Homo sapiens: one gene and its partners. The protein of the gene in region 5 interacts with the protein of the main gene of each other region in a pairwise test. Each region holds a gene or a part of one and is shown on either strand. Other genes may lie near its edges.

Region 1 (4,237 bases), on a different chromosome or scaffold from region 5:
GTAGTGCCTTGGTTGGAGGCTTCTCAGGGTCCTCAGGGGTTCCTGAGTGGCTGCCAGAGCAAGTGGTGGCTCCCTCTGGCCTTAAGAGGGAGTGTAGCCCAGCTGCCACCAGGCCCTCCTGCTGCCCAGGCTGCCCAGCCAGCCCTGCTTGGAGCCTTCAGAGGGTGTGCCCTGGCTGCAGTAGCGGTCAGCACAGGGGAAACACTCAGGGCAGAGAAGGCTGGCAGAGCCGGAGGGATGGGAAGCATTCCTTTATGTGGCATCTCCTGGCACACGGAGCCTTGCAACAGGCAGGCATCCCGCAGGCCAGACAGCTGCCACTTGGTCCCGAAGCTTCCCTGTTTCCTCCTCGCAGAGCTGATACTCCAACCCCAGGCGCCTCACGAGGAAGGGCTGGCAGCAGGCGGCGTGTTTGAGACTGATAAGCGAGGTGTGTTGGCAGCGCGGGGCCCCAGAGGGCTGCTTGCTCTGCCCTGTTGTTTCGTCATGGTGGGTTTTAGTCACCCTTGCCCTGTTGGGCATTATCTCGTTTGAGGTCCACCTAGAAGGAGGCATAACTGACACTTGTGGGAGATTTGCAGGGTCCTGTGCCTGAGCAGCCGGGGGGGATGCCCCTATTTGTGGCACTGAGCCTTTGGGTGACTCCCCTTTTTGCCCTGGCTCCAACTGGAAGTAGAAAGTGGTGCTTGAACCCCTGGCAGGCCCTGCTCCTGTAGCCACCCAGGGCGGGAGGAAGCGCTTTCTGCTGCTGGTGTTAGAAACAGTAGGCGCTCTTTCTGCAGCTACAGAAGCTGGCTGTTCATTCACCCTCCGTCCTGGTTCAGGGACTGTGTTGGAGAGACCCTGTCCACTCGTGTCCTGTGGATGCAGGACAGGGATCCCCACCTGCCTGCCTGGGGCGTCTTGTGAGTGACAGCCACTGGGGTCTCCAGGCTCACCGCTGTGCCCCGACCCCGACCTGGCCTGACTCTTCCCTACTGTGCGCCTCCCAACACCGCAGGAGCTTGTCTCCCCAGACACCAGCCCCAGCCGAAGCCCCCAGCCTCTGCTGAGCTGAGAACACTTGGGCTAGTCCTTGGTTTCCACATTTCCCTGGGTCATTGTTTTTGTTTCTCACTAGATGCCAGCTTGTTTGCTTTGAGGAAAACATATGGGGGGTGGTGGCTTTAACGCTGGCTTGAGGACAGGGCGGCAGGAGGAGTAGGCAGCCTCGGCTCACGGGCCCTGCCCAGGAGGGCTGCTCTCAGTGTTCCCCAAAGAACCAAACAGCCGGGTCCTGCTTCCTTAGGGGTGGTGTCATGTCAGCCTGTGCATCACGGTGGCACAGCAGAGGTCCCGGTTGCCAGCGTGGTCCCTCCCAGCCTCACTTCTGTGACCTTCTGCCCACCTGAGCCTGAGTTGAAAGTCAGTCCTCCAGGTTCCTGGTTTGGTGTTCAAGGCTCATCACCAGAGGGAGATCTAGGAGTTTATGGGGTTCTAGATGGGCCCAGGGAGGAGGACCCAGGCTGAGCCGTGAGCTGAGAACACCAGCAGTGAGTGGGCCAAGCCCCTGAAAGGACACAGATGGGCAGAGTCCTGCTGCATCCTGGGGGCGCCGCATGCTGGCTGGGCAGACCCTGCGCTGACCTCGACAGGGCTCTGCCCTAATCCTGGGAAAAAGGGAGGCTCAGCAGGCCGGCAGCCATTCTCTCCCAAGCTGGACAGCCAAATCCCTCTTTTAAGCCCCCTGAATAAAAGAGCTGAAATGAACTTGCAGAATAAGCAGGCCCTCGGGGCCCCTCTGCTGCACAGCAGGCGGAGCAGGAGGCGCTCTGAGCAGAGCCCCCAGCCCTCCCCTAGTGCAGGGTCCCAGCAGCAGGGAGAGTGCAGGTGTGTGCAGGAGGCTGGCTGACTTCCCTGCAGGGAAGCGACCCAGCATGTCCCCGAAGACCTCTCCGTGTTTATGGTAGACTGTGGCCCTTCACCCTGGGGGCAGGGGACCCTTGCTGCTCCCTCCCTGTCCCCCCTTCTTCTGTGGCCATTGCCACTCACCTGGGAGCTCAGGTGTTGGGGGCTGAGCAGCAGTGCCCCAGCGCGGAGCCTCCACGTGCTGTCCTCGTACTTCCTTCGTGGGCGCCGCTGCTCCCCTGGGCGCCTCAGCCCAGCTCCTCTGCTGACAGCCAGCTGCTGTCTCTGCCTGGCTTTTTTGTTGTTGGTCGTCCTGGAGATCCAAGTGTCAAATTACCGTCGCGAGGGGGAGCCCGAGGAAGCCCTGCTTGGGAACTTGTCCTCCAACTTCATGTCCCGGTGCCTCACCTCTGCCCTGAGAGCGCTGCTCAGGGACAAGACAAGCTCCCTCTCTCCTCCTCCTTCCTCCTCCTCTCCCTCTCCCCGACTCCCACGCCGTGGGCTGGGCCTGGGTTGGGAGCTGAAGAAAGAAGTCGGCTCTCTGCCTTCCTGGCCAGGAGGACCCTGGGGAGGCTCCACCTGAGCCTGTGGAGGGGAGTCCTGCAGCGCTCTCAGGTCTGGGGCACCCACCCTGCCCTCAGGAAGGCCACCCCTTCTGTCCCTCTGGCCACTCCCTGGCTGGTCCCTCCCTCTGGCCTCTCTCAGGAACAACAGTAAACAGTGGGGAGCTGGTGGCCCTCTCAAGCTGAGCAGGAGGCTTTGCAACCAGTCCCTGGGGAGGCCCTTGTGCCGCTCAGCATCTGAAGGCGTCTTGGGGGAGAACTTGGAATCCTGAGTGACCTGGGAGTGGCCTGCGCGCCCGGCAAGGCGCCTCATGTTCCTTGTGAGGTGAGGGCCTTCTGCTGGGGCTGTGACCGCACTCCTGGCCCAGCTGTCAGGGCAGGGCTCCAGAGTCCAGGGGCCGGGCCCTGTGACATTTGCCTGGTTGTGCCTCCCAGCAGGCTAGGCTGTGTGGAGAGAAACCGACCCCAGCCCCGCTGTCAATGGAGCTCTTTGAGTCCGAGCACAAAACCCCAGTGAGTCAGGGCCTGAGGAGGGCAGGGGGAGGAAGCCAGCCATGTGGTCACACCACTCGGATGCCAGAGCCTCCCAGAGGCTGGACAGGCGGCCGCTGTGCGGGCGCACGGACTCCTGGGGATGAACCATTTGTTGCATTTACTCATTGGAGCAGAGTGGGGGCAGGAGCGCCCTCTGGTGGCCGCCTCGGCTGTCCCAGCCCAGGTCAGGCTTCAGAGCTGCATTCACTCAGCTAAAAGAAAGTCAGCCAGGCCCTGCTTCCTTACCGGGGTGTTGCAATCAGCCTTGCATCCTTGAGCCTGCGCCTTGGGGTCGCAGCCCCTCAAAGGGCTTCTTGCAGCCGCAGCAGTGCTCACACTGGGAGGAGTTCTAGTTAGAGCAGTTAATGCCAGCTATTCTTGTCCCTGGGATGTGGCACCCCAGACAGCCCTGCCTGTGTTCCAGCATCTCCTCTTGGGCTTCCCTACCCTGTGCCACGTTCCTGGTGGCAGGAATGGCTGTTTATAAGGAGCCTGAGAGAGCTATGGCCCCTCTTGCGGCCTCTGCAGCTGCCCCAAGGGTCGACAGCCACCCCCATGCAGAGGGAACAGAGATGCGACAGAGCCTCGTGGGCCAGCCAGAGGCTGCTCCCTGCTCCCAGCATGGGCAGAGGCCGCTCACCCCAGGAGGGCTGCAGCAGGGTTGAGACAGAGGAAGACGAGAGGAGGACTCCAGGCGAGGCTGCGTCTCCCTGGCTAAAGGCCCCACCTGTGACACCCTCACGGGTTGATGATGGGACATATTACTACACAGCCGTGCCTGCCTTAGCAATGCAAATACGTTTTGAGAAATTTAACTTGTCATTGTGCGGTCACAGAGTATACTTAGGGAAATCAAACAGCAATTCCAGGGAAGAGAAGGAAAAAAATATCAAGCGGCACAGCCTCCTACACACCCAGGCCATGCGCTACAGCTTGTTGCTCCTAGACCACAAACCTGTACATCACGTTACTGTCCTGAGTACCGTATGCAGTTGTAACACAGTGGTATTCACATATCTAAGCACACATAAGCATAGAAAAAGTACAGTAGAAATACAGTGTTAGAATCGTAGGGGACCACCATTGGCTGTGCAGTCATTCCATGGGGCATGACTGTACTGTAATGCACTTCAGACATCACCTCAGCCATCTTCGCTCAGTCCGTGAGGGCTGTGCCTTTCTGCACCATCTTACTGACGGGAATGCATGGGCTTTAGGAGGTGAAGTGTGTCACCCAAAAGACACCCTTCATG
Region 2 (4,159 bases), on a different chromosome or scaffold from region 5:
ATAAGCCTTTTATCTTCAAGAACAGCAGTCAAAATCACATCCAAGATTTTGCAGAAATCAAATTAAACAGAATCCTGTTAGAGGAAGTGTTGGAAAAATCAACAGGGGCAACCTGCAGACGCTGGGTGGGAACCAAGTCTCACCCCAAAAGAGAATGCCATGGGCCAATTCCTGACGGGATGCGCTGAGGCTGCTGACGTGACGGCTGCACACTCTGACACTGCCCCCTTGCTCCTTAGGAACAAAACCACTTCGGCAGCAATAGGGTACAATTCCAAAGGACAGGGCCACAGAGGAACTGCCGGGCTGGGCCTGGAGCGGCACTCACTCTAATGTGACCTTCACTCGCACCCTTTCCAGGGCTGCAACGCTGCGGCCACAGCCAGTGTCTCGGATGCCCTGATGCCCCTGCTCCTCCCCCGTCCCCCGCCCAGGGATGCACACACGGGGCACGAGTCGGGCAGGAAGGAAACGCAGATACCAGGCAGGCCCTGCATCTCCGGCACCTTGGACTTTTCCCTTGCAGGCTTCAAGGGGAGGAGAACAAAGACAGGGAAGGAGTGCCTCTCTTCAAACCTCACTCAGATCTCCTCTGAAGGTCCCTTCCTTTCCCTGCCTGACCTTCATTTCAAAACCACAGATTTCTACAGATTCTAGGGTTCATTTGGGAACAGGAAAAAGAATCAGAAGGATGGGAAAAGCCTGTCAGTCTGGACACTGAAGATTAAAATCTAAAGTGCACCACGTTCTCCTGTTGGCATCGTAAAGTTCTTCCTCCTCACCAGGAAAAGCTCCGAGCCCTGGCTGAATTAACATCAGACTGGATGTCAAGAAACAGAGGGGATGAGGCCTCAAAATAATGCTCTTCAGATGAGGTGTTTAGCTGGGATGACATGTGGGTCTCAGCTCCCTCTGTTACCCAAACTCCACTCTATGTCCTAAATGTCCTAAGCACCTCCAAGGAGCCAGCCTGGTGGGGATGGTCAAAGTGCGATCGCTGACAAAGTGGCAAGAGCTCTCTGCACACCTGCCTGGCTGCCTCACAAGTTGCTCTCTGTTTGACCATCTCCCACTCCTGGGGCTTCTGGCCCTCCCTCCAGGAAAGCAGTTTCACTGTAAATTCTGTGCACACACGCACACGCACACACACACACACACCCATCCTATCTCTCCTCTTTGGGGAGAAAAATGTCCTGTGATGCTTACTTGGAACCCTGAGCTTCAACGATGGCTCATCTTGTACTTGAAAGATTTAGCACACCAAACATCTCCACCTGTCCCCCAGTCCCCTGGATTTCAGGAGCAAACCCGTCATCCTGCAACTCCTTCCAGAAGTCACCAGTTTCCCACGCACCCCTCTTCACTACTCAAGAGCTCCCCACCCCTTCCACCATCTCTCCTCAGTTCACGGCTCCATGGACCCCTCAATTCCTCAAAGAATTTCCCCATCTCTTTGCACCAAGACTGAGAATCCCCTAGAAACAAGCTGGCCCTGCCCTGGTCTCCCCCATCTCCAACGGCAGGTATACTCATCCCAACATACTCTCTTTCCGGACCAGCCTCGACCCCGGTAACTTCCCGGCCTTCTCCACTTCGGACCCTACCCAACATTTTCTGGCCTCCTCGCCCAAGTCTCCCCACGTCCCAAGCAGTCATCCCAAGCTTGTTCCAAAAGCCTCCTCTTCCGCACCAGCTGCTTGGGCACCACGGTTACTCCGGCCCGCATCTCAGCCCCCTCTGCATGTCCTCAGACCCTTCACCTGTCTCCCCAGCCAGGCCCTGACTTCCTAGTCCTCCTCCTGTGTCCACTTACCACCACCCCTCACCCGATGCCTAAGGCGGCCACTCCTCCCCATCCCCATCCCAACTCCATCGCGGAGCCTCTGACCCATCCACCCGGCTCTCCGTGTGAACTGTTCGGCCCTCCACCTTTCCCCACCGCCGGGAGGCCCTGCCTGCCCCGGTGCGCCTCTTCCTCGGCCGCCGCGGGGCCTCTCAGCGCCGCCTGCAGTCCCGGCTGAGCCCGCGCCCTCGGCCCGCGCAGAGCGACCCCACAGCACTCCCAGCGCTCGGCGTCCCCTCGGCCTCCCCCAGTCCCGGGCCAGCTCTCCCTGCCCTGACCCCGTCTCGGGCCTGGCCTCGCCCTCGCTGTCCCCGGCCTCTCCTCGGGTCCACTTGGGCCTCCGAGGCCCCCGGGGCGCCTGAGGAGCCGTCCGCCCGGGTTGTCCCTCCGTGCCCGTGGGCCCCTCCATGCCCCGGCTGCCCGTCCATGCCCCGTGGGCCCCGGCTCAGATGCCGAACGCCCCGGCTGCCCCTCCACGCCCCGGCCGCCCCTCCACGCCCCGGCCGCCCCTCCGTGCCCCGTGGGCCCCGCCTCACGTGCCGCCCGCCCCGGATCCCCTCCATCCCCGCTGGGCCCGCCTCAGGCACCCTCCGTCCCTGCTGCCCCTCCGTCCATCCGGGCCCTGCGTCCCTCGCCGCGCCGTCGCCCCGGCGGCCGTCCCCACCCTCCCTCCTCCCCGCTTCCGCACGGCCGCCGGACACTCACTACTCCTTGAGCAGCACCATGTCGCTTCGCGGCTCGGTGGCTGCCCGCGGCCCGCCCGGCCTCCCGCCCGCTGCCCGCCGGCCGCTCTCCCCGTGGCCCGGCCCGGCCCGGCTGCCTGTGCGTCTTCGTCGTGCTCTGCTCCGTCCCCGCCGCCCTCGCCGCGGTCGCCGCGCCGGCTCCTGCCGCCCGGGCCTCGTCGCCTCTCGCGCCGCTGCCGACGCCGCCCGGAGCTCCGGTTCCGCAGCGCCGCGCGGGGGCGGGGCGTCTCTGCGGCAACCAGAGCGTCACACGCCGCGGTGCGCGCTGACGTCACGCGGGGCCGAGCCTTCCCAGGCCCGCCCTCCCGTCCTTAAGTGGGCCGCGGCGGCGCTGTCGGTTCCGAGGTGGGGCCCCGCGGCTGGGGCCAGACCCGGCAGAAGGCGGAGCAGACTAGGGTGTCCGTCACCGTCCTCGGTGTGAACCGCCACGGATGCACGCGGGTGCTGGCTGGGGGGCCTCCCCGGTTGAGGGAATTGAGACCCAGGAAAAGGTTGTTTCAAAAAATATTAATAGCCGCGCGCGGTGGCCCACGCCTGTAATCCTTGCACCTTGGGAGGCCGAGGCGGGCGGATCACCTGAGGTCAGGAGTTCGAGACCAGCCTGGCCAACATGATGAAACCCCGTCTCTACTAAAAATACAAAAATTAGCTGGGCGTGGAGGCACGCACCTGTAATCCCAGCTACACGGGAGGCTGAGGCGGGAGAATCGCTTGTACCGGGAGGCAGAGTTTGCAGTGAGCCGAGATCGCGATCGCGCCATTGCACTCCAGCCTGGGGGACAAGAGTGAAACTTCGTCTCAAAAAAAAAAAAAAGAAAAGAAAAGGGCTGTGAGGCCGGGCGCGGTGGCTCCTGGCAGTAATCCCAGGCACATCATGCCTGTAATGCAGCACTCAGGCGGGCGCATCACCTGAGGTCAGGAGTTCCAGACCAGATGGCGAAACCCCATCTCTACTAAAAGTACAAAAATTAGCCGGGCGTGGTGGTGGACGTGGTGGTGGTAGTCCCAGCTGCTCGGGAGGATGAGGCAGGAGAATCGCTTGAACCCTGGAGGCGGAGGTTGCAGTGAGCCGAGATCGCACCATTGCACTCCAGCTGGGGCGACAGAGCGAGACTCTGCATCAAAAAAAAAAAAAAAAAAAAGAATGAAAAGGGCTGTGAGAAATGAGACACAGGCTTAGCGGCATTACACGGAGGGGCACCTAATTGAGCGTCAGGGATGTAGTCAGGGAAGGCTTCCTGGAGGAAGAGATTCTCAGATCTGCAGAGGGCTTCGGAGAAGAGCATAGCAGGCAGAGTGAATGCAAAGGCTGGAGGCAAGAGGGAGAGCATGGTGCATTTGGAGAACTGACAAGTGAGTGGAACAGAACATTTCAGGGCTGAGCAGCTCAATAGGGGAGGGTTCCTGGTGAACGATGATAAGGTATTTGGAGTCCACCCTAAGGGCGGTGGGAGGGCATGTAAGGGCTCTGAGCAGTGACATGAGCGGGTGTCCTGGGCGAAGGCTCACTCTAGTGGTTGGGTGGACAGAGGGGATGGAATGCCAGAGCGTAGGCAGGGAGACCGGCGAGGAG
Region 3 (3,931 bases), on a different chromosome or scaffold from region 5:
TTGTTCAATTGATCACGACCCTCTCAGGCGCACCCCCTTAGAGTTGTGAGCCCTTAAAAGGGACAGGAATTGCTCATTCGGGGAGCTCGGCTGGTGAGACAGGAGTCTTGCCGATGACCCCAGCCGAATAAACCCCTTCCTTCTTTAACTCGGGTGTCTGAGGAGTTTTGTCTGTGGCTCGTCCTGCTACAAAGTGATCCGCCTGCCTCGGCCTCCCAAATGCTGGGATTACAGGCGTGAGTGACCGCACCTGGCCTGGGATGGACATTTTAAAGGTTCCTGATACATATTGCTAAATTGTTTTCTCGAAACGCTCTATACCATCCCACCAGCATTGTATGACGCCTACGGTTGAGATTTTTGGCTCAAAGAATTACGGTGTATTTCAAGGGGAGAACCCTCTTCTCATCTTACCCCTAAACTCTATCCTTGAGTGACCTACCTTCACTCCCAAGCCTCCAGTCACCCACTGGGAATCTCTACCTGGAAATCCCAGAGGCACTCAAACTTAACGTGTCCAAAACTAAATTATCCGTCACCTTCCCACCTCATATCCCCCCAAATGCCCCAGATTCAGAAAACATACCCATCACTGTGGCTGGCACCACGGTGATAAGCACGATAATAACCATGGCAACCAGATTCCCTACTGAAGCCATTCTTTTAGGATGAACCAAGGGCACAACAGGCAGAGATGACAAGGGGAATGGAGAAGGGGGTACAGTAAGTTTTAGATAGTCGAAGGCACGCGCACGACAACGCCTGCGCACCACGGAACAGGGCAAAAGGGTGACAAACATGCGCCACTGAGTTTTATCGAGCAGCCGATGCCCAGAAAACAGGCATCCGCACACAGACTCAGTTTCCTTGTAGGCAACTCCCGGGCGTTGCGAGTCACAACCGGCATTCTCGCGCCGTGAGAGAGAACTGCGCAGCTGCTGACTGGCGGGCCGCCAGGCGCGTGCGTAGAGACGCCCACACGCCCGCTGATGCGCACGCGCCCTGGGCCGCGCGTGCGCGCGTGGGGTTCCGGAATGAGCCGGGGAAAGCAAGGGGAAGGTTTGGGGTTGGCTCCCGGTTTCGCGCATGCGTGCACTGCACAAACCATTTGGCGGGTTTTTCCGGCCACTCAGTTCTGCCACCGTCACTGAGAAGCTCAGCGGTAGCTTTTGGGAAGCAGGACGTTCTCACCAGGAGAGCGTCCTCTCGAGATTTCTGCTCCCTCCATTCAGGGCGTTTGGGAGCCACCCCTTCATTTTTTAAAAAAAGTATTTCTCTGTGACCGACGGCCGGGGCCTTCTGACGGTCTGAGGTCTTGCTTGGGCCAGTCACCTCCTGTCACGGTCCGCGGAGGGGGGAAGGATAAGAGGGCGAGGAGCTCATCGCTCGCCACCCCCGTGGGCTTCTTGGGCGCAGGTCGGAGCTGGGTGGGCCGGCTCCCCGGCCCCTGGCTTGGGCGACCATGTCCGCATCCGCCCAGCAGCTGGCGGAGGAGCTGCAGATCTTCGGCCTAGACTGCGAGGAGGCTCTAATTGAGAAATGTGAGTCCCGCACCCCTCCCGCCCTGCAGCCGTGCTCCACGCTCTCGCCCGAGTTCCTCGGCGCCTAGAACCGAAAGTGGAGCGCTTCCAATTTCCACTTCCCCTGGAGCAGAGTTCTCGGTGGCTGTGAGATGAAGAATCAAACTTGAGTTTTGAGATTTAGGATGTGGGGACTTTGAAATGCCCACCGGGTACCGCTTGGATGCCAAATCAAAAATAGGAATATGCAGCACGATTTTAAACCAACTCGAAGTTCCCGAAAGGCGGAATTGGGATGTGCTAGATAGAGACTAGGCACTGGTGGCACCTGAGTTTGGAAATTGTTGAAGCCCCGGTAACAAAGCAACAGATGTGGGGGTTTTGAAATGTAGCTTTTTATTCTTGGCTCCTCCCTTTCCAGCCTACACCTTAAACCTCTGCTGATCCATCAGTTATTTTATCATAGCTGTTGGTGGTCTGTGCAAATATGAATCCCTTGAGGTAGGTTCCTAAAATTGAATTTGAGCTGTGGAAGGAGCTTTAGGGAGCTTTACAGATGGAGAAACAGACAAGGAAAGCTAATTGCCTGAGCTGTCTGTGAAGCCAGGTGTCCTGCCTTGGAGTCCCGTGCTGCATCATACGGGTCCATCGTGTTGGTCAAGCTGTAGAGCAGTGTAAGGAGTCATTTGAAGCAAAGCCTGGGAGATGTGGAAGTTCTAGAATCGGTATGAATGTGCACCTGCCTTAACCACTCAACACTTTGAACTTCTTATATACAAAAAGATAACGAAACGTTAATTTATGGTGAGAAATTCCTTTCAGAAACCAGAATACTTCAAGTCTTCATGCCCAGTGCCTTCTCTCTCTCTCTTTTTTTTTTTTTTTTTTTTTGACAGTCTTGTTTTATCACCCAGGCTGGAGTGCAGTGGTGCAATCTCGGCTCACTTCAGCCTCCGCCTCCCAGGTTCAAGCGATTCTCCTGCCTCAGCCTCCCAAGTAGCTGGGATTACAGGCGCCCGCCACCAGGCCCGACTAATTTTTTTTTGTACTTTTAGTAGAGAAGGGGTTTCACCATGTAGGCCAGACTGCTCTCGAACTCCTGACCTCAAGTGATCCACCCACCTTGGCCTTCCAAAGTGCTGGGATTACAGGCATAAGCCAGCAGGCTCGGTCCTTCTCTTTTTAAAAGAAGACTAGCCAGGTGTGGTGGCTCACGCCTGTAATCCCAGCATTTTGGGAGGCCAAGGCAGGTGGATAATCTGAAGTCGAGAATTTGAGACCAGCCTGACCAACATGGAGAAACCCTGTCTCTACTAAAAATACAAAATTAGTCGGGCGTGGTGGCGCATGCCTGTAATCCCAGCTACTCAGGAGGCTGAGGCGGAAGAATCGCTTGAACATGAGAGGCAGAGGTTGTGGTGAGCCGAGATCACACCATTGCACTCTAGCCTGGGCAACAGGAGCGAGACTCTGTCTCAAAAAAAAAAAAAAGACTTAAGTGGAAAACCTGATCATAGTCAGAAATGTATGTGGTAAGCATGAAATCAGCATGAGAGAAATTAGTTATGTGAACCAGATTTGTAAAGGCTTCAGGCCAAGATGCCAGTTGCTTTCATCTCATGGCAATGGCTTTGGAATTGTGGACTTTGGATCATCAGTAACTTCAGTGGCACCTTAATGTTTCCTGACAGTCAACCGTATTTCCCTGTTTTTTTTGTTGTTGTTTGTTTTGTTTTTTGAGATGGAGTTTCTCATTGCCCAGGCTGGAGTGCAATGGTGCAATCTTGGCTCACTGCAACCTCTGCCTCCCGAGTTCAAGCGGTTCTCCTGCCTCAGCCTCCCGAGTAGCTGGGATTACAGGCTCCCGCCACCACGCCCGGCTAATTTTTTGTATTTTTAGTAGAGATGGGGTTTCGCCATGTTGGGCAGGCTGATCTCGAACCCCTGACCTCCAGTGATCCTCCCACCTCGGCCTCCCAAAGTGCTGGGATTATAGGTGTGAGCCACCACACCTGTTCTACTTTTTGTATTTTCAGTAGAGACAAGGTTTCACCATGTTGGCCAGGCTGGTCTTCAACTCCTGACCTCAGGTGATCCGCCCACCCTGGCCTCCCAAAGTGCTGGGATTACACTGCGCCAGGCCCCTGGTCTCTTTACTCTGAGTCTTCCAGATGATTGTTTTCCACCTTCTCCTGTAACATCCTTCTGTCCCACCCTCACTCTCAGCTGACAAATTTCTATTATTTGCTGAAAAATGTAGAAGCATTAGAAAACTTCGATCAGCTACCACCATTATGTCTCACTGACCCATATCTGTGGCATATACCTAGCCTTCTTTCCTATTATAATGAATAAGCTTTCCGTATTCCTAGCAAAATCCAAGTCCTCCACTTGAGTCCTAAACCCCATTC
Region 4 (3,500 bases), on a different chromosome or scaffold from region 5:
AAAAGGGAGCGGCCAGGCGCCGTGGCTCATGCCTGTAATCCCAGCACTTTGGGAGGCTGAGGTGGGCGGATCACAAGGTCGGGAGTTCGAGACCAGCCTGACCAACATGGTGAAACCCCGTCTCTACTAAAAATACAAAAAAAATAGGCAGGCGTGGTGGTGCGCGCCTGTAATGCCAGCTACTTAGGAGGCTGAGGCAGAAGAATCGCTTGAACCTGGGAGGCAGAGGTTGCAGTGAGTCGAGATCGCACCACTGCACTCCAGCCTGGGCCACAGAGTGAGACTCCTTCTCAAAACAAACAAACAAACAAAAAACAAGAAGGGAGCATAGAGCCTCAAAGGTTGAGCTCACTGCTTTCATCACTTTGTTTTCCACCTGAAAAATCTTAATTTGCTTCTGTTGGAACAAAGGATAAAATAGAAACTCCTTACCCAGATTGCCAAATCCATACATGATCTTAGCCCAGGGAGATCCATGGACTCTCACTGTTCCCGTATGGTTGCTCCATTCTACTAAGTTATCTCTTTGCTTTCCCCGAGGCTTGCTCTCCAACTTCTTAACTTAAAAGGGCCCCCTATAGCGTGAAGGCTTTCCTGATGCCTCCAGTGCAGAAATTAATAATAGTTACTGTGTGCCAGGTGCTTCCTGTGAACCTGTAAAACAAGAAACAGGTAGCAGGCTTCTACCTTGTCCTTTCTGCTCATTTGTGTTTTGTTTTTATAAGTGTCTTCTTAGTACAGAGATGGAGGTTTTTCTATTTTGCTCATCTAAGGAATCAGAGATGATGTGGAAAACCAACTGCCTCACTGTTATCTGAGATCAGTAATTTGGAAGCATATTTTGCTTTGAATGACTTTTTCTGATTGAGTTAGGGGTGAGATGAAGAATGTGATAATTTTTTAAAATCATGGCATTTATTTTTTAAAATCTTAATATATTAAACAATACAGTTTCAGATACAAAAAAAATTACTGCAATAAAACAGTTGAGGTGTATTTCCATTGTGCTTCCCTTCCTTATCAGGAAAGTACATTGTCCACTGAGAGACAGGATGGATGGCCTCTCCCAGCTCTACACAAAGCACAAGCCTACTGGCTCTCCTGGGCCTTGGTTAATACATGGAACAGGCTATGTTTTCTAAAATGTTGTAGCAACACTCATAAGTCAACCATGGTTCAAAAAGTCAACCATGGTTCAAATCACATATTTACATATTGATCAATTCTTTATGATAGACAGACATAAATGAGATACAGTAAATAATTTCCAGTTGTTAAAAAAAAAAAAAAAACAAGTACAGGCGACAAACTTGGTCATGGTACACAAATATACTTCATGTGTACAGACAGCTTCATTCAGGTCTAATTTTTTTTTAATTTTTGTTTTAGGTTAGGTATATTTGCAGGTTTGTTATATAGGTAACTTGTCTGTCACGGGGGTTTGGTATACAGATTATTTCATCACCCGGCTAATAAGCATAGTACCCGATAGGTAGTTTTTCCGTCCTCACCCCCGTCCCGTCCTCCACCCTCCATTATTCAGGTATAATTTTAATTTGAAAGACCTAGATATACTATTATTTAAGTGATAATGGCCTCTAAGATTTATTCAGATTACTATCAAATAATAAATTAAACAAATCCACTATAATTTAAAACTCTGTCCATTGCTTGAAACCTTGGAGGAGCCTATGCTACAATCAGTTGCTAACTAAAAGCAATTGTACGTGTATTTGATATTTCCCCACAGTTTCTACCTCTAGATTTAATTCAGTAAAGGAAGATGATATTTGAAGATGAAGTAGCACTTGTGTCCTGAGCATCTCTCAGGCACTACTGCATGGAATGGCAAAGGGGATGCAAGAAGCACATCAGATGACAACGGTCTTAGACGCTTACAAGTCTGCTAAGGTGACTGACAAGGGAATCAAAGAAGGCAGTCATGTCATGGACCTATCAGCAGCATAGCTGGGCAACCCTGGAGCTGAATCTGGCCCTCAGACTTGTTTAAATTGCCCAGTGTTTTTAAAGACACTGAATTAATTGCGAAAATTTATAACTCAGGAAATTTCACATAAAAATCCCACTTGTCAGCTTCCCTGGAAAACCCAGAAGAGGGGGCAGCACTGGGGGAACAGTGATCTGAAATGGCTCATTGGCAGAGCAGCCACCACCTTTCTGCAGGCCCCTGGTTCTGCATGGGTCCCTCTCCTCCCTGTGCTGCACCCAGCCCACACCTCTCACTTATGCTACTTGCTGGTGTTTGTGACCCCTACAGTATAGTCAGGGTGCCATATAATCAGGACAGGAAATATTAGGATTTCAGAAGGAATAGAGCTTACCTTGGAGAGCAGAGTATAGTGGAAAGAATAGGGCTTTAGAGCCGGGCCAATCTACATTCAAATGCTAGCCTGCCCTCCTGCTAGCTTTTGCCTTAGAGAAATATTTTCCCTCCAGCTCCCTTTGCTTATGATAAAATGGATAATATCACCTTCCTTGCCTCCCTTACAAGGTTGTAGTGAGGATTAGCAATAACGGATATAGAGTGCCTGATGTGCCTGGCACCTGAGCACATGCCATCGTAGATCTTGTGGAAGAAGTCTGGCAGGATGCTTTGGTTTAAGTACCTGGAAACTGTTATAAAAAGAAGCATGGAAAAAAAAGAATAACCCAACCACCACCAAAAAACAAACTCCATGTAGATTAAAGAGTTAAATCTAAAAAATGTAAACTCTTAAAAAAAAAACTAAAAGGAAATACAGTTGTATATTTAACTTTCCTCAGGATGGGAAAAGACTTTCTAAGCATAAAAATCATGAAGACGAGCCAAAGAAAGGTCAGTAGAGTTGACTCTAAAATTTTTGAGCTATTCCATGTTAAATACCATAAGTACAGTTAAAAGGCAAATAGCAAATGAGAAAAGCATTTGCAAAAAGTATGACAAACAAATGCCTTAATATCTGTGGTTGTAGATCAATAAGAAAACAGTGTTAACACCCCCATAGAACAATGGACAAAGGACATGAACAGAGAGTGTTCACAGCAGAAGAAACACAAACAGCAAACAGAATGAAAAAAAAAAAGTTGAACTTGGGCTGGGTGTGGTGGCTCACACCTGTAATCCCAGCACTTTGGGAGGCCAAGGCAGGTGGATCACTTGAGCCCAGGAGTTCAAGACCAGCCTGGCCAACATGGTGAAACCCTATCTCTACTAAAAATAAAAAAAAATTAGCCAGGCATGGTGGCAGGCACCTGTAATCCCAGCTACTCGGGAGGCTGAGGCACAAGAATCGCTTGAACCCAGGAGGTGGAGGTTGCAGTGAGCCGAGATCACACCACTGCACTCCAGCCTGGGTGACAGAGTGAGACTCTGTCTCAAAAAAAGAAAAAAAAAAAAAAAAGAACTTGGCTTGTAATCCAAGATCTCTAAGTTTGAATGAGTTGTCATTTCTCCCCTAATTGTTTTTCGTTACTGTCAGTTGATAATGTTCAGCCAGAAG
Region 5 (3,500 bases):
TTCACCTGGGCTGGAGTGCAGTGGCACAATCTCTGCTTACTGCAAGATCTGCCTCCTGGGTTCAAGTGATTGTCCTGCCTCAGCTTCCCGAGTAGTTGGGATTACAGGCATGCGCTACCACACCTAGCTAATTTTTGTATTTTTTTTTTTAGTAGAGACGGGGTTTCACCATGTCAGCCAGGCTGGTCTCAAACTCCTGACATCAAGTGGTCTACCTGCCTTGGCCTCCCAAAGTGCTGGGATTACAGGCATGTACCACCACACCGGGCCAAAATGAAGTTCTGAAATTTAACTAGTATCTTCTAAATGGTTATGTTTTAAAAAGCTCTTTTTGGTTTTAACTATTTAAAGGTATTTAATTTCTGCTTTAAAACTTCTGATTTTGTACTAGAATCTACCACAAAAGCAAGTATCATTGCTATACTCTATTTTATGTATTATAACTAAGCCTTTTACCAACTCCTGAAATGTTTCTGTTACTGGTTCAGCTCATTTTTTAAATTTTCAGTGCACTGTGTGAAACTTCCGCATGCGTAGGAATCTATGTGAGGTACTTAGAGGGAACCTATTTGACTTAGCTTCAATTTATGCTTAATCGTTGTTTCTGGAAACTTAAGCCATTTTTTCACTTGTCCTGAAATACCTCTAGGTTGGACAGCATTGTAAATGTTAATATCTTTGGTCTTAAGCATTTTGCTAACCAAGTGTTTATTCAGCTTTTGTTTTTTTCCCCTTTCCATTTATTCTAATGTTCTATTATTGCTTTAACCTTTCGTATTTTAAACTTATTTTTAATGATGAAATCTTTTGAGTGAATGCATGCTCAGAGATATACTTGTATACTTTAAACATAAACTAAAGCCAAGGCATCATATTGCTGATCTGTCTGTAGACTATTCCAAGCCTGGATTGTTCTATGCCTTAAGCGCCTGTGTCTATATTTAGACTCTAGGCAAGAAAAAGAGAGAGCAAATGCTCATGCTAAAGCTGTCAGATGTAAGTCTTTGGTTCTTCCAGGTACTTTATATCTGTATTTTCCTAGCCAGAAATCCTGATTTTGAAATTATGAATGTACATTCAGAGTAAAAATTAGAGTTAAAATGCTACAAACAGGGCAAAGACACCTTCAATAAATATTAAGTGAATTAATCAGTCCTTTTCTGGAACTTAAAATCTTGTAGAATACTCAAATAATAATTTTATTTTATTTTAAAATGCTTTTGTGCCAAGATATTTTATCAAATTTCTAAAATATAATTTTTTAGTTATATAATAGTCTAACATAAAATTTAAAAAATTATTTATTAAGATATGTGCTTGAATGAATGCTAACTTTAGGAGATGATAAATGGCTGCTGATGGGGGAAAAAAACAATCTTCTAATTAGTTTTGCTTTTTAGAAATCATTGGTAATTTTAACCTTTCTCCTAGATGCCAGGATAGAAGAATTTGTTTATGAGAAACTGGATAGAAAAGCTCCAAGTCGTATAAACAACCCAGAACTTTTGGGACAATATATGATTGATGCAGGGACTGAGTTTGGCCCAGGAACAGCTTATGGTAAGTGAAATGCAAAAAGTTCTAATAAGGGATATCTTTATGTTTAGATTTATTAGAGATGTCATTAACATATTAGTAGGCCGGGTGCAGTGGCTCACACCTGTAATCCCAGCACTTTGGGTGGTTGAGGTGGGCGGATCATGAGGTCAGGAGATCGAGACTATCCTGGCTAACATGGTGAAACCCCGTCTCTACTAAAAATAACAAAAAATTAGCTGGGTGTGGTGGCAGACACCTGTAGTCCCAGCTACTTGGGAGGCTGAGGCAGGAGAATGGCGTGAACCTTGGACGTGGAGCTTGCAGTGAGCCAAGATCACACCACTGCACTCCAGCCTGGGCCACAGAACGAGACTCTGTCTCAAAAAAAAAAAAAAAAAAAAAACATAGTAGTAGAATTGGTTTTAACTTCAAATTTATGTTAAAAATTTTTGATGAAGTGAGAAATATAGGCAAATATATACAGTTAAATGTAATATTTAATATATTCAAGCATATATTTAGTTATTCAGAGAATTCACATCTTTTTTAGTTCTAAAAAGTTTAATGAATTCTTCACTTGTTCTCCCAGTGATCTTACAATACCTATGTTATAATACTTGTGATATTGCAATTATTGTTTGCATATGTCTCTTCATTTTTAAAAAAGCTTTCTTAGGGCTTATTTTATGTTAAAGGTACTTGGCACGTAGTTCTTGAACAAATCAGTGCTTTTGTTATAATTTTGCAGTAATGTCAGTAACCAAAAAATATTAACAATTGTTATCTCTGGATATTTGGATTACATTTCATTTCTGTTTTTCTCTTATGTATTTCAAATTTTCTATAGCCGTGGTTTAGTTACACTCGCTTTATTAGTTGCTGTACAGACTTTAAATGTATAGCCCTGAAGCTCAAAGTTACATACACATCTTTATTGTCACTCTAATTTTCTCATAACATGAGACTGTTACAGATTTCAGTAGCTTCTTTTCCTGTTGTTTATGTCTAATAATAATTCTCTTTATACATCTGCAAGATACTGGTCTTTGGATATGAAATGGTAGGTAGATTAAATTAATTTCTACACATAGTTCTGATTTACAGAATGGTTTATAAATTCTAGGATTAAATGAATTTTAAGCTTTAGTAGTTATCTTTATGTCAGAAAGAAATAACCTAAATATTGTTGAATGCCACTAATCCATTGACAGGCTTTTTTAGGTACACAACTTTGAAACTTCTACATTGTGTTCTTCAAAATCTAATTTTTAAGTTTGAAAATGCTTAGAACTTCAAAATAAAATTATTTCTGAATTTTACTGTTAATTTTTAGAAAAATGTTATACATTAAACAGATGTTTTATTGCCTACTTGTGCCAAGCTCAGTTAGATGCTGGGATCATAAAGGTATGTGAAAGGAACCCAGCAGCCCCTTCCTTCACCAGGCTGAAGAAGGTTTTAGCAGAGCATGAACATTAGTAAAGGCTTCTAGATTTTCTTCCCTTTTAAATCTGCTTAATCTGTTTGCACCTCTAGTAATTCTAGTGAATGTACCCTGGTTATTAGAATTGGGCTTTGTGAACCTATTACCTTATTAGTAATTAATACTAAAAATTGAGTATCACAGGCATGGGCTAAGCATTATATAGTATATATATTTACATATTAATTCTCATTTATATCCTGCTTTTAAGATAAATTATATTACCTTCATTTTAAAGACAAGGAAACAGGTTTGGAGAAGTTAAATAATTAATCCACAGTCACAGCTAGTATAGTAATTCAAATGAAGATCTGTCTGTATCCAGTGACGGAGCTCTTAACTACTATCTGTATTACCTTCCTTATCAGTCAGATCAAAGCTTATCCTAACATGAAGGGATTAAGATCCTTAGAGCTAAAGCTTATTAGAAGTAAAACTAGGAGTGGAACCCTGATCTTGGGGCTTCCTTTCTTTCTAC
Region 6 (3,500 bases), on a different chromosome or scaffold from region 5:
AATTCTGGTAAAACACAAATTGAAGGCATTTTCTAGTGTATGCAAACATTACAAGGGGCATCAATGAATGTAGAAGAAAATCGTAGATTTTTCACATCAAGTTTCTGCTGAGCTTTGTCAAACCAAATAGCTCAACTATAAGGCAAGAGAAAACAACTCCCTATAACAGATTAGTGGATCTTACCAAGTAAATATAGGAATTCAATCTTAGGGAAAAATTCCCTACATTAATAGATCTGAAACAGCTGGTCTTGAAACAAACATCTAGAAATTAACGAACATCTTGACATTCAGTCATTGGTTCAGAAGCGTGACAAACAATCTGTTGGTATATATTATTAAATTAACTTTTTGGAATCAGCACCAGTCCCCAAAACCTCAAATTATAATATTTAATCTTCATTAAAATATATTTTTTGTGCTACATTAACACGACCACAATTAAGTTAAAGAAAGCTGAATTTATTTAACTTATTGTATATGTTTATGTATACTAGGTAGTGACTTAAATTTCTTTTATTTACTTGTGCTTCTGTTTTGGGGCACTTTGATTGAAGAGAAATTCAATTCACAGGATTACATCTTGCTAAAGCATTCCTTAGCATTGGTCCAAACTTGAATTCCCTAAAAATAAAAATAAAAACTTTAAAATGTGAGTTTGGAAGGAATCTGAAAACCCAAGTACTTGGCTTAGTGGTACACTAAGTTTTGCTTTTTGGAATAATTAAGAAGTCGAGAAAATATGACACTATTTTGGGAAGTGGCTAATATAAGCAAATGTCTAATGCTTCTGAAAAGAGAAACAGAATCTCTAATACGAACTTATCTTCAAAATGGAAAAAGAACTCCTACAACTTGTTGGAAAACTGAGTTAATTCATTTCATATCACATACTCGAGTAATTTCTATTTGTAAATCAAACAAGTTTTCAGTCTTTTTTTTTTTTTGGAGATAGGGTCTCACTCTGTTACCCAGGCTGGAGTATAATCATGGCTCATTGCAGCCTTGACCTCCAGGGCTCAAGGGATCCTCCCACCTCAGCCTGCCAAGTAGCTGGGATCACAAGTGCACGCCACCACACCTGGCTTATTTTTTGTATTTTTTTTTTTTTTTGTAGAAATGGAATCTCACTATGTTACCCAGGCTGGTCTGGAATTCCTGGGCTCAAGCGACCTGCTTGCCTCTGCCTCCCAAAGTGCTGGCATCACAGGTGTGAGCCACAGTGCCCGGCTCGGTTTTTTCAATGTAATATTTGAAACAAAAAACTTCATTAGTCTAACAAATATAAATTGAGTTATTAAATTATCACTCTAATAACTAAAGTTTTGATAAAAACTAATTATGTACTAAATTACTGAATCCCTCTTAGTACCTGAAGTTACTTAGCACAGTTATAGATGGCCTAATATGCATAAGCAAAAATACATGTTTATAGAGATGTAACAGTAAAACTTAAGGGTTTTTTCCTTTTTTTTTTTTTTTTTTTTTTTTGAGACAGAGTCTTGCTCTGTCGCCCAGGCTGGAGTGCAGTGGCGCGATCTCGGCTCACTGCAAGCTCCACCTCCCGGGTTCACACCATTCTACCACCTCAGCCTCCCAAGTAGCTGGGACTACAGGCGCCTGCCACCATGCCCAGCTAATTTTTTGTATTTTTAGTAGAGATGAGATTTCACCGTGTGTTAGGCAGGATGGTGTCGATCTCCTGACCTCGTGATCCACCTGCCTTGGCCTCCCAAAATGCTGGGATTACAGGAGTGAGCCACTGTACCCGGCAAGGGTTTTTTTCAGTAAGGTATTTTTTCAATAAGATACATATTCTCCAATAATTACTCATTTATGAGAAAGGAACTTTTTAATACTTAATCATTAAAGTGTGTCATTTATTAAGGTTTTGAACAATTTTCTTTTTCTTCTCTTTTCTTTTTGAAAGAAGGTCTCGGGCCAGGTGCGGTGGCTCACACCCGTAATCCCAGCACTTTGGGAGGTGGAGGCAGGCGGATCATGAGATCAGGAGTTTGAGACCAGCCTGGCCAACATGGTGAAACCGTCTCTCCTAAAGATACAAAAAAATTAGTCAGGCATGGTGACACACACCTGTAATCCCATCTACTCGGCTGGATGAGGTAGAATTGCTTGAACACGGGAGGCGGAGGTTGTAGTGAGCTGAGATCATGCCATTGCACTCCAGCCTGGGTGACAGGGTGAGACTCTGTCTCAAAAAAAAAAAAAAGAAAGAAAGAAAGAAAGAAGGTCTCACTATGTTGCCCAGCCTAGTCTTGAACTCCTGGGATCAAGTGATCCTCCTGCCTCAACCTCCCAAATAGCTAGGATCACATATAAAAATCTATATCACTTAGGCAAGAAAACAAAACGACAAAATTGCATAGTACCATTCTTGGGAAACAAGGTGAACATAAACTCTTATTAAACTTTTTGTTTTACTAGTTATCTAAGGATTTGTGAATAAACCTACAAAATATCCAACAGTATGTCCAAATACAGCTATAGTAGTATCTTTTATATTCACAGATTAAATTTCTAGCACCCTCAACCACTGCAGCCTAAACAAAACGGAGGGGGAAAGTCCTTTGAGACATTATATAAAGGTCTTGCACTTTACTTTGGAAAGAAGTGAATGAGAGATCACAAGGAGCTTATTAATGAGTCTTTTACAGGAAAAACAAAAAAACTAAAAACCTTTGTTATCTGGTCTTTCAGATTTCTTGAGGTTAAAAAGTTAGATTGGAAAAAGGACTGTACTACTGGGTGTGGTGGCTCATGCCTATAATCCCAGCAATTTGGGAGGCCAGGGCGGGAGGACTGCTTGAGCCCAGGAGTTTAAGATCAGCCTGGGTGACACAGTAAGACCCCATTTCAACAAAAAAAGAAGAAAAAAGAAAAAGACAATGGATTGTAAATATCTAGCACCTAGCTGCAGGCAAGAAGAGGTGACAGAATGAAGGCAAAAAAAAGATAGAGATGCTACCAAACTACAACATACTCAACCTTTAGCACCTGCAGACTCAACAGTCACGATCTAAACTTGTTTTAAGTGACTCCAAAGATCCACGGTATACAGTAACTTATAATTCACTGAGCATAAATATGAATTTGTCCAAACCAAATGGAGCCCACTTAACCAGTGAGTGCGTATGGTGTTTATGCCTCAAAATATCTTTGTTCTCTCAGTGATGGCCCACAGCCAAAAAATAAAATTTTGGGACAAACTAAAGCATAAGAATTGTATATATATTTATATGAGTGTGATTTTGCCCTATAAATGTGAGAATTCATCTTACCATGTAATTTACTGAGATAATGCATGTAAAAGTGCTTGATAAATTATGACAGGTGATACAAATCAAAGCACTGGTACTGGTAGTCACACTGGCAGATCTTAGGTTATAAAAAAGAGGTTAAGGAATGTTTCCTATTTTGTTCTTAAACCAACGTTTTAGAAAGTCTTCCATCATTGTCAAACATTTATTTTAACTAGAATA
Region 7 (3,500 bases), on a different chromosome or scaffold from region 5:
ACTACAAAACAAAAAGCGACAAAAATCTAATCCTGAGAGCAACTGAACAGTATTGTTTTGCTAATGTATTTCATAAGCAATCAATCTAAAGTACTTTCTAAAGTATTATAATATATATTTGAAAGAGTCTACTGCATTACATTATTTTGTTAGTGACCACTAGAAACACTAATCTAAGGTCCCCACAGCAGAATAAAAATATCAAATATTTCCTTTAAAAAGGAAAATCATCTTAATTTTCTTCTTGAAATCCATTTATCAAGAAGAAATAATTAGAATAAAATTTAAAAATTAGATTTAAAAGGTCTTGGAACCCTAATGCCTAGCATCTCAAAACCGAAAGGCCAGCAGATACCATCAAGTAAGTAAAAACTTTAAAATTCAAAGTGATCAGTTAAAAAAAGCAGAGTTTCTAAAGAAACTAAAAAGTTTCTGTAAAATTCCTCATTTTTGTATATTTTCTACAAATTTATGATGAGGCAAAACAATCAATCTATTACATGAATTAACAGCTATCACAGGCAAGTATTTTAAAGTAAATTATAAATCTAAGCCATAACAATATGTTGGTTCTAGTCTGGCAAATTACCCTGCATGCTAAACAAGAAATATGTTAATTTTACCAAATAAATTTTATTTCAAATTAGATTAAAATTACAAAGAAGTGTTTAATATTGATATCTTATGTAATATTCTATTTATACTGCCTCATGAATATACTTTTTAACTCATCTATATTCTGGTTTGCCTATTGCACGGATTCTAAAGTTGGCAAAAAATAATCAGACTTCAAAAAATAAGAAAATCTGCCCTAAAAATATTTTCTGCCTCATTTTCTCATAAACATACCAGTGTGATAAAGACTTTCCCTCCCTCATTAAGTCTTACAGACAGCATACAAACATTGCAGAGTATTTTTTCAAGCAAACAATATAACACACTAAACAACTTAAAAACAAACCTTTTAAATTACCAAAATACTGTAATTTTTCTCTATTAACTGTAAACAAAATATAAGATTCTATAAGCAATAACTATTAAGATGAACTATTTTGATGGAAGAACTGGTAATTTCTCAAAGGATAAAAAGAAGCACACTAGTATTTTGGTTCAATATCCCCTTTAAATATAAAATTTTCATTATGAGAAAAATAAAGGAAAATGCAGAAGTTGTAGTCATTAGCTTCCTTAAAAAATCAGGAAAAATAGCTCTAATATATAACTACAAAGTGGGTAGAACTGAATTAGAATATTATCTGGTCCTCTAGATTATAAACACTTATTTTCTAAAATAAAACATTTCTCTCCAAAAAATTACAATCTCAACCTCAAAATCTGTACACCAAAAAGTGTTTTATTTACTTTCAAATATTTATGTGTTGGGGATTTTCAAACCTGATGCAAAAATCAAAATTAACAAAGCAATAATTTAATAAAATATGCTTTGGTATACTAAATGTAAAAAAATAAAAGAAACTGACATCTAAATATGATACATATCCACATTTTATTATTTAATCAAGACTAAATAGAAACAGAAACTCATTACCTGTATAAGACAAAATGTCCTCACTCCTCTTAAATTTGCAAATAAAATGGAAAGCAATATATATTTTGGTACAATTATACAGATGTTCATGTAAAGTTTTTTTTTTTTTTTTTTAACACTATGTACTTAAATGCTATTAAAATAATGGGTGGCAAGCTACTTGAATACTGTTCCTTTTTACTGGTTATGCTTTTAATGATAACAGTGGATTAAATTTTTATTGCTTTTATCTCTGTACTAAAGATAGTATGTTTTTTTCTTTTTCTAGCATCTTGGGACTCTAAGGTGATCTAAAACCATTATAAAAGATAATTACAGAAACATATCTAAATTATCTTAGAATTATCTAAATTAGGTTTAACTTATAAAAATCCTACTCAATCAACATTATAAAGCATCCACTGCATATCAGCATTCAGAGAGCCGACATGGGCATAAATTATTTCATGAGTGATTAAAAATAAAAGATCTAATGTTATATAAAAGAGGTACATTTTACCTGGATGAGGTGAGGTAATGCTTTTAGTGTAAGGCAAAACCAAATCCCCAGTTTGCATGGAAGCAAATCATGCCACTGTGGTTTCATCAGCAATCTAAAGGGAGGGAGAAAAAAGAACACCATACAACATATGAGGAATATACAGAGAAAGTTGGGAGGCAAAATAATTCTATAAAGATCATGAATTCTTTTGTGAATGGCTACTTCAACAAAAAAAATGAAGAAAGTATGCACTGAAATATTTATAACTGACTTACTCCATCATGAAATACAGTAGTCACAACAAATGCAATATATATAGCATGTAAGAGAATCTAGGCTAAGATTTTGGGGAAGGAGGCTCCTAATCAAGTTACAAAGATAAACAAAAGCCTTCTTTCTAACCTGGGCTTTTCATCACTTTTGTACAACGAATTCTTAAGCCTTATGATTACTTCAGCTATAAAAAACTAACCATCATCAGAGTGTTCCCAAGTGCTGACAACCAGATATGAAGACTGTAGCATAAACAAACCAATACATAAAAATTAATGTCATTTGCAGTTCACTGAAGCATTACTCACTGATGTCATCAGAATAGATGACAGGCAGAATAGTCTCTGATCTCCATCCCACATTGATCCCAGTTCATGCCCTGCTGTGTGAACTATTTAAACCCTTTATTCCTTTCTATGAATCAATAGAAGAAATGGTGGTATCTTTTTGAGTGTACTGCATATCACTGCCTCTCTACATACTGTCACTCCTGAGCTAAGTGATAGGTCCGTCTAATAGTACTTTGTTTCTAAAGTTCAGTATAAAAATTTCAAACTAGAAGAATTTGAGGGATTATTTAAATATATAGTCACACTTTATATGGGGGAAAAAACCTGAAGACATTTTGCTTAAGATTAGAACTTGTCTCATAAACAATGGCACATTATTAGTCTTTTATAAGACTACCACAGATATAAATGAGAGCACATGTAAATAGACATACATATGAAGTTGAATCATATTAAAGATGTATTTTAAAACAGCTTCAAATTATAAAGTATTTTTATATGCTCTCACCTTTCATTTTTTTCTGAAGCACCGAGTTTTGATACATCCACACTCTTGCTGCCAGTCTTTTTTTTCTTTTCTCTCTTTTTTCTACTTAGTAGTTCATCCTTAATGTGGAAAGAATTATGGTTACAGGTTATCATTAACATGTACACTTCAAATGTTATCTAGGCTCTTCTGTGAAGGGTAAACATTATAGAGGAACATTTATGCAAATGTATGTAGGGTCCAACATGATTAAGTAAAATCATCAATCTTTCACAATAACTGTTGCCATGGTATCCAGGCCTTAAACACACATGAAGTTCAGGACTGTCAGTCATGTGCATCTCCATAGCAATCAAAGTTTTCTAAGAAGAGAAAGCATTCAACTCACTTTTTCTCATTCATCCAACTTTAATAATGTCA

Evidence for each region.
Region 1: the proteins of SH3GLB1 (region 5) and SMIM5 interact in binary tests that used the Homo sapiens proteins (3 or more experiments, as listed by UniProt).
Region 2: the proteins of SH3GLB1 (region 5) and PITPNA interact in binary tests that used the Homo sapiens proteins (3 or more experiments, as listed by UniProt).
Region 3: the proteins of SH3GLB1 (region 5) and POLA2 interact in binary tests that used the Homo sapiens proteins (3 or more experiments, as listed by UniProt).
Region 4: the proteins of SH3GLB1 (region 5) and ALKBH3 interact in binary tests that used the Homo sapiens proteins (3 or more experiments, as listed by UniProt).
Region 6: the proteins of SH3GLB1 (region 5) and SNX4 interact in binary tests that used the Homo sapiens proteins (3 or more experiments, as listed by UniProt).
Region 7: the proteins of SH3GLB1 (region 5) and DNAJC1 interact in binary tests that used the Homo sapiens proteins (3 or more experiments, as listed by UniProt).

The regions. Positions count from the first base shown.
Region 1 is NC_000017.11:75,631,997-75,636,233, reverse strand, and holds the start of SMIM5 (small integral membrane protein 5), read right to left. Parts: upstream 2,801-4,237; 5' UTR 2,776-2,800; coding exon of another isoform or gene 2,296-2,775; 5' UTR 2,201-2,295; coding exon of another isoform or gene 2,032-2,200; exon of another isoform or gene 1-2,031.
Region 2 is NC_000017.11:1,559,993-1,564,151, forward strand, and holds the start of PITPNA (phosphatidylinositol transfer protein alpha isoform), read right to left. Parts: upstream 2,801-4,159; 5' UTR 2,569-2,800; coding exon 2,549-2,568; intron 1,906-2,548; exon of another isoform or gene 1,207-1,905; intron 1-1,206. UniProt on the Homo sapiens protein: Catalyzes the transfer of phosphatidylinositol (PI) and phosphatidylcholine (PC) between membranes. Shows a preference for PI and PC containing shorter saturated or monosaturated acyl chains at the sn-1 and sn-2 positions.
Region 3 is NC_000011.10:65,260,831-65,264,761, forward strand, and holds the start of POLA2 (DNA polymerase alpha subunit B), read left to right. Parts: upstream 1-1,131; 5' UTR 1,132-1,462; coding exon 1,463-1,541; intron 1,542-3,931. UniProt on the Homo sapiens protein: Accessory subunit of the DNA polymerase alpha complex (also known as the alpha DNA polymerase-primase complex) which plays an essential role in the initiation of DNA synthesis.
Region 4 is NC_000011.10:43,911,831-43,915,330, forward strand, and holds part of ALKBH3 (alpha-ketoglutarate-dependent dioxygenase alkB homolog 3), read left to right. Parts: intron 1-432; exon of another isoform or gene 433-654; intron 655-3,500. UniProt on the Homo sapiens protein: Dioxygenase that mediates demethylation of DNA and RNA containing 1-methyladenosine (m1A). Repairs alkylated DNA containing 1-methyladenosine (m1A) and 3-methylcytosine (m3C) by oxidative demethylation. Has a strong preference for single-stranded DNA.
Region 5 is NC_000001.11:86,718,076-86,721,575, forward strand, and holds part of SH3GLB1 (endophilin-B1), read left to right. Parts: intron 1-1,431; coding exon 1,432-1,560; intron 1,561-3,500. UniProt on the Homo sapiens protein: May be required for normal outer mitochondrial membrane dynamics. Required for coatomer-mediated retrograde transport in certain cells. May recruit other proteins to membranes with high curvature. May promote membrane fusion.
Region 6 is NC_000003.12:125,447,203-125,450,702, forward strand, and holds part of SNX4 (sorting nexin-4), read right to left. Parts: intron 625-3,500; coding exon 577-624; 3' UTR 1-576. UniProt on the Homo sapiens protein: Involved in the regulation of endocytosis and in several stages of intracellular trafficking. Plays a role in recycling endocytosed transferrin receptor and prevent its degradation.
Region 7 is NC_000010.11:21,916,731-21,920,230, forward strand, and holds part of DNAJC1 (dnaJ homolog subfamily C member 1 precursor), read right to left. Parts: intron 3,200-3,500; coding exon 3,102-3,199; intron 2,143-3,101; coding exon 2,049-2,142; intron 1-2,048. UniProt on the Homo sapiens protein: May modulate protein synthesis.